2 linked regions of the Homo sapiens genome follow. The protein of the gene in region 1 purifies or fractionates together with the protein of each later gene. This does not show direct contact. Each region holds a gene or a part of one and is shown on either strand. Other genes may lie near its edges. The genes, in order: ACSL3 and WDR19.

What was found.
Region 2: the proteins of ACSL3 (region 1) and WDR19 purify together in Homo sapiens (affinity purification with mass spectrometry; one large-scale study listed by BioGRID and IntAct). This does not show direct contact.

What each region holds. Positions count from the first base shown.
Region 1 is NC_000002.12:222,919,750-222,923,576, reverse strand, and holds part of ACSL3 (fatty acid CoA ligase Acsl3), read right to left. Parts: intron 2,298-3,827; coding exon 2,147-2,297; intron 870-2,146; coding exon 746-869; intron 500-745; coding exon 428-499; intron 1-427. UniProt on the Homo sapiens protein: Acyl-CoA synthetases (ACSL) activates long-chain fatty acids for both synthesis of cellular lipids, and degradation via beta-oxidation.
Region 2 is NC_000004.12:39,227,412-39,231,238, reverse strand, and holds part of WDR19 (WD repeat-containing protein 19), read right to left. Parts: intron 3,030-3,827; coding exon 2,882-3,029; intron 2,754-2,881; coding exon 2,549-2,753; intron 1-2,548. UniProt on the Homo sapiens protein: As component of the IFT complex A (IFT-A), a complex required for retrograde ciliary transport and entry into cilia of G protein-coupled receptors (GPCRs), it is involved in cilia function and/or assembly.

The sequences.
Region 1 (3,827 bases):
AGCTTCTCTGTCACTTTGTTTGGTGTTTAGGCCAGACTTTCCCTGAGGACTCAGGAGGTAACTATACAGCTTGCTTAAAAGGAGGTGATCTCACACTTTCCCTCCTAGCTCTCAATAGGCTTCAAGTGTCAATGAATTCACCAACAGATATCATGAAAATAATTTTTATTTTAACAAGAAGGTATTTAGGCAAACAAGTTGATAATTACACACAGAAGCTGAAATTAAGTTGAGTGCTTAGTAAATAAGAAAGCAAGCTAAAACAAGACTGAAGAAATCCCATAGCGCCTAAGGCAATATTTATAATCAATAAGGAATAAATCCTACATAAACTACCTTGTCAACAATATATTTTTCACTAGCACTAATGCTTTGTAGCGGGTGATACTTCTTTAATACTCAATATTAAATAAGGGTCACTTCTTACCGGAACTGCTGCCATCAGTGTTGGTTTCAACATGGATGTATCCCCTTTGCTTCCTTTTTTAATTTTTGAAGACTACAAAATAAGAAAAAGTGATCCATATAAAGTGATCCTTATTTTTAAAATTCAATGGTATTCTTAGATCAAAAAGCCTATTATAAATTATTTTAATGTACTTACAGTCTAAGAAGCACTTAAAAGGCTAAAGCTCATTTTAAAATGAACCATCGCTCTCGCAATATACTGTCATACTGACTGAAAAAAATGCATTACAATTCACTATGATTTTTTAGTATTTCAAGTCACAGACACTGAACTTACCTGATCTGCTAAAGTCTGTGGTGAAGAGTAACCAATGCGGCATCCGTGAGAAAGACAGACAAGCTCAGCACTTAATTCTAGAACATGGGCCAGAGGCAAATATCCAATGTAGACATCTTCCTCTCTAAAAGAAAAGGGAGACGTCAGAAACAAAAGTCAGGTGTCGTCTATGCCAAAAGTGCCCTATAATGGGAGCAAGCTTGAAGGCACATGGAAGGGCCCCAGGGCATCAATTTGCTGGTCAAGTGTGTATGTGTTTGTGAGAGAGAGAGAGAGACAGGTGAAAACAGAGGATAGGCAGATGCTGGGGATGGGAGGGAAAAAGAATTACAGCTCAACCCAAAAGCAAGGAGGCGCACACTTGCAGGAAGGAATGCTGTTTCCCGTCCTACTTAAAAGCACTCAGGAATTATAAGCGTTGCTGAAGCAAAGTACTGAGGCACAAGAAACAGTGGCTTAAACAAATAATAATACAGGGTTCTTTTGAAGAACAGAAGAAATCATCCAAGGAGGAAATGGTCTTTACATCTAGTGGGTTGCCAACCAGAAGAGTTAAAGTAGAATCCACAACTATCTGCCAGAAATTTTACAGATAAGACTCTTGTTGTGGGAATTGGATTACATAATAAATTAGATCTTAATATACAGAAAATGTGTAAGTATTTGTATATACTTCAAGAGCTGCCCCCATAACCAAAATATAGAAGGTAACTGAGGCAAACCTGTAAGAAAATTGTTGCACTTAATTTTTTCTGAAATGTATGCATACGTAAGAGACATTCCTCCATCCCCAAGTTCAGTACCATAGCAATTACGTGAGTGTGTGTGTGCGTGTATGTTTGTAATTTCTGTGCATAAAAGCATCAAAAATATCCAACCACTGTACCCTATCGGTCATCAGAATACCAATTGCATCTCTGGCAATGTTTCCTTGACAGTCCCTCAAACTTCCATCTGGTTTCCTCCATCAGTCTCTTCCCCACTCCACTCTACCTTCCACTGCTACCACTGGAGTTTGTATTAACAAGAAAAATCAGAGACCAAATACTGAAGCTCAACAAATACTTAGTGGATAAATTAAGTTACCTGTTCACCTGAATTGTATTTAGATATAAAAAAAACTACAGCAGCAAATACAAGCTGATTAAAACAAAGGATTTACAACTATACAAATTTAAGTTCTGTACTTTTTAAAATATATCTATATGATATATTTTCAACCTCACAACTATAACTATTTTGCCATTAATTTTAATGTCCTTTTTTATTTTTTAAGGAAATGCCTACTACAAACAGACTCTGAGGGACTAATTTAGCCATATATTAATAAAATGACACAAATGCTAACATTATAACAGACATAAATACTTAACTACTCAATGTTACTTTACTATGACATACCCTAGTTCTGGAATCCTTTCTGCCATCCCAGTTATACCAGCAATAATGTTACTATGTGAGATCATGACTCCCTTTGGAAGTCCTGTGGATCCACTTGTGTACATGATTACTGCAATATCTGAGGGCAATGGTTTGCTATGAGGTTGGTTTTCTGCATTGAAGAGAAAAAACACACACATACACTTTCATGAGATTCAGCTGTATCAACAATTTCTTTTCATTATCATCAAATAAATAACTCAATCAAATTGAGTTAATTTAACTCAATTCAACAAATATTAGTTATACTGAGATCAACAAAACAGATCAAGTCCCTGCACGTATGGGAGATATATTCTATTGAGATATACAAACAGATTAACCTATGAAGAAAACTGAAGCAAGACAAGGTGAGAAGATGACAATAGATGCTATTTGGATGGAAAAGCCTGGAGACCGTCTCTGTAGAGTTTCGTTTAGCAAAGGCCTGAATAAAGTGAGGAAGGGAGCCATGGAAACCCTGGAACTGGGAGAAGAGTGTTCTAATTAGAAGGAAATAAGCAAATGCAAAGACCCAAAGGTAGGAATGTGCTCAGCATATCTAAAGACCAGCAAGGAGTGTGGCTGGAACAGAGTGAGCAAGAGGAAGAGTGGCAAGAAACAATAGTCAAGTGGCTATCAGGGACCACACATAGGACCTCAAAGGCCACGGGAAGAACTCTGGATTACGTTCTGGATGTAAAGCAATGTTGTTTTGAACAGGAGTATGTTATTATCTGTGAAAAAAAAGATCACTTTGGCTGCTGTGTGGCTAACTAACTTTACAAGGGGAAAAAAGGTATCAGGGAGACAAGATTATCCCAGTAATTCAACTAAGAAATAAAGGTAGCTTTGGACTAGAGTATCTAGGTGTTTGCTAAAAACTATTCACTGCTTCAGAATGGTGACTAACTTGGTTACACTCAGAGTCCTGCATTAAAACACGATGTGAACCATTTGAAATCAGAAGAGTACCAGCCTAAGGACAACAGCTGAGAAGCTATAGAGGTGGCACAGCAGAAGAACAAAGAGAAATAGGTCATGGTTGGCATTGCTGATATGTCTGAACCACTCCCAGAACTACTCTACATGTGAACTTCTAAATGAGTGTGAAAAAATTATTTAAATGTACTCCCAATAGAATACCCTTCCTCTCCTGTCAGTCAAGATACATTTCTTAAATAATGTTTACACTTGGAAGTCTTTACTTCCAAATCAGCCCTTCACTCCTTCAATGCACAGCACCCTTCTCCAACACCACCACTTCTTGGAAATTACAATCCTTGTGTCATCTGACCTCTGCATGCAGCCCCTGATCCTGCTGATGACTCACCAAGATCTCCTTTCCCTTGGCTTCCAGGAACCACATACTACTAGATATTTTCTTCTTTCCTCTCTGACTAGTCCTTAGTAGCCTCTGAAGCCACCATTCCCTGTTGGTGACCTCACCCCCTACTCCCACAGCTATAATTAAAACCTAACTGCTTCTAGCTTCCAAATCTCTAAGTCCAAACATAACTCGAGTACTAGACTTTTACACACCACTGTCCACAATATATCTGCATCTAAATATCCCACTACCACTCAAATTCCAGGTGCCTAAAATTTGAGTTGAGTGAATGCTTACATCTAATTACTAGGTTTCCAACTACAGAGGAAATGC
Region 2 (3,827 bases), on another chromosome or scaffold:
CCTGGGTTCAAGTTATTCTCCTGCTTCAGCCTCCCGAATAGCTGGGACTACAGGCGCATGCCATGACACCCGGCTAATTTTTTGTATTTTTAGTAGAGACAGGGTTTCATCGTGTTAGCCAGGATGGTCTTGATCTGCTGACCTCATGATCCGCCCGCCTCGGCCTCCCAGAGTGCTGGGATTACAGGTGTGAGCCACCGTCCCCGGCCCAGCCCACTCTTTAATGGATTGTCTGTGGCCACTTTCCTGCTACAACAGCCAGACTGAGTAGCTGCGATAGAGACCCTATGGCCCGTAAAGCTTGAAATATTTGCCATTTGGACCTTAACACAAAAGGTTTTCCGACCTCTGGTTTAAAACATGAACATAAATGCCAATTAAACTTTTTGTGGAACCTCTACATGAGTGAATATATTACATCCATCTATCTATTCATTCATCCATTTATCTATTCACCTATCCATTTTTTCATCCAACACACATTTACTGAACTCGTTACATGCTTGGAAACATGATACAAAAATCAACCACAGTTGCTGTCCTTAAGGCAGTCACAATTGGGGAAGGTGGAAGAGACAGATAAGGAAACAAATGACTATAGCATAGTTTGACAGAGGTAACTGAGTACTTACAATAGGTAACTCTTTGTGCTAAGTCTTTTGCATAAATTCTCTTACCCTAATAACCCTACCCACTAAGTATTATTATTATGTCTCCTTTATAGATTAGGAAAATGAGGCTTAGAGACGTCAAAAGACTAGCCCAAGGCACACAGAGGTAAGTGGTGTCATGCTCTTCACCACTGTGTATACTGCATCCTGGCTCTGAGGCAACACATCAGAAAGACCCCAAGCAGGACTGCCTGTGGTGGTGGGGAAGTCGGGGAAGGCTTCCTGGAGCAGGAGATGGCTCCACTTATCGCTGATGGGTAAAGAAAGAGGGGTTACTACATTCAGAGCAGGGAAAGGGCATTCCAGGAAGAATCATGAAATATATGCAATTTCAGCAGCCAGTGGAACAGAGAGGGACTTGAGTGGAGACAGTTGAGCTGGTGTTAAATCATGAAGTGCCTAGTAGGTCATAGAGGTCCCCCAGGAATGGATTTGTTTGTAAAGGCAATAGAAAGTCACTGAAGGATCCTGAGCAGGGAAATAAGAGGATCAAATCACATCTTCAAAAGTGTGTGGAGAACAGATGAGATCGTTACAAGGCTATTGGCAGACAGAGCAGTTAGGAAGTGGTTAGTTACATTACACATTATTCCAGGTGAGGGCCTGGGTAAAGATGAGGGAACACGGGAGGAGGAAAGGAGCTGGTGTATATGTGTGTTAAGGCATGTGCATGTGTGATTACAGTGAGGGAAAATAGGGGCCTGTGGAAATTGATGAGTTCAGTTTTAGAAAGGGCAAGTTTGAAGAGCTCATGGACTTCCAAGGACACATGACTGGAAGGTAGTTGTAAGTACAGGTTTAAGATAAAGACACAGATTTTAGAGTCAGCTTCATATGGGTGGTATGTTGAGCCATGTTAAGCAGAGGAGATTCACTCAGGAAGAATAATTAGAGTAAGAAGAGAAGGAAACTCATGAGACCCCAATAAACAGCAGCATTTAAGAGAGGCTCGGAAGAATTAGAACGTCAAAGGAATTCACGGTGGCTCTAGGAGATAAGAGAAAAAAACAGTAAAAGGAAATTATAAGCAAAGCAAAATCAAACCTCACTATGATGAAGTCAAGATATTGTTGAAATAATTAGGTTTATTTTATTAGGATTTCCCAATAACTAGGCTCTCTGGAAGCTTAGAAACCGTTTTGTTCTTAAGGGCTTTTCTTGTAATAAAGTACTCATAATAAAAACAGCTGACTATCTTATCTGAGCCTCACAATATCCCTGTGAAATGAACAAGGTAAGTGCTGTTATCTCCATCTATTGAATAGGATTTGACATTTTATCAAAAAGACACCTGCACTCATATGTTTACTGCAGCACTATTCACAATAGCAAAGTCATGGAATCAACTTAAGTGTCCATCAACAGATGACTGGATTTTAAAAAGTGGTGTGTATATATAGATATACACACTATGGAATACTACTCAGCCATTAAAAAAATGAAATCATGTCTTTTGCAGCAATATGGATGGAATTCGAGGTCATTATCCTAAGTGAAATGCCCCAAAGTCAAAAACTGCATGTTCTCACTTAGAAGTGGGAGGTAAACAATGGGTACACATGGACATACAGGTGGAATAATAGATACTGGCAACTCCAAAAGGCGGGATGGTGAGACAGGGTTGAGGGATAAAATACTACCCACTGGGTACAGTGTTCACTATTCTGGTGATGGGTACATTAAAAGCCCAGACTTCACCATATGCACTATATCCATGTAGCACAACTGCACTTGTACTTCTACATTTACAAAAAAAAAAAAAATTCTTGCAAGGATAAAGAATAAAGCAATAAAATAAGATAGAATAATTATAGGATTTGACCTTTAAAATCACAAAAGCAAATGAGAAGTTCCAAAAGAAGTGTGTGAAAGCCTACCTCTTTAGCATTAAATTCTGTGCCAGCATTGGTCTCAGTTCGTCAGGCCCCGTATCTTTTAAGTTGCTGAGAAAGCCATGGGTGCTAAGGTAGATGTTGTTTACTTTTCCACTCTGTGTTTGGCAGGTCAGCTCTCCATTATATAGCAGCAAAGGTTTATGAGCAAAAGGAACTTTGGTGCTACCAGCCAAAATAACCTTGGCTCCTACATTATAAAACAGACATCGCAATGCTGAAAGCTAATACTCAGCACAAACATCAGAAAGAATGTTTTAATTTTACTGCAATGGGAAATTCATCTGTCAGCGAATATACACAAAAGGGGTTTAGTACCTTGTATAGTGTCCTTGTGAAAGACATAAGTGTACACCTTATCATCATCATAAGCAATAAATACACCTTTATCCATTGGCCAGTTTTCCCAAAGAACACCTTTAATGGTTGGTGAAAAATCTGGAATCTCATAGGTAGCGTCATTGACCTACAAAATAAAATTTACAGATTTGCCCCAAGTCTGTACTTGAATCATTATCATTTGCCGTGGTAGAAGCCTGTTTGCAGCCTTAGCTGGCTTAGCTTACTGAGTCATATTCAACCTAACATCACTCCAACAACAACAGGAAAGAAAGTTTCTTTTTCCATTCCTATCCTAGGTCTGGCTTGAAAAAACTATAGTTATTTGGAAAAGCCAAGGTTTGATCTAAAATCTGGCAAATTTGTAGGAGAACCCACAAGTCTAGACACAAAGCTTCAGGTTAAGGAAAAAAAATTAAAGCTGCTCAGGATGACAGAAATTTAAACTACGAACACACTTGTACTTGTGTTTAGAAATTTTTCAATAATACTGAGTATTTGATAATAGTGGGTATTAAGAAACAAATTAACTCACATGATTGAAGTAAATTACACTAGGGATACTTTATTTCAAAAGCTTCTCTAAAATGCATGTCAACAAATATAAATATACAATCATCCCTCAACATCCATGAGGGATTGGTTCCAGGATCTCCCACGGATAGCAAAACCCACAGATGGCCAAATCCCTGAATAAAATGGTGTAATATGTGTATAAACTATGTACACCCTCCCTTATACTTTAAATCATCTCTAGATTACTTATAATACCTAATACAATATAAATGCTATGTAAATAGTTGTCATACTGTATGGGGAATATAGACAACAAAAGTTTTCTGCACAGGTTTAGCACAGACAAAACCATCCATTTTTCCCCTGAATATTTTTGATCTACAGTTGGCTGAATCCATGGATGAGGAAC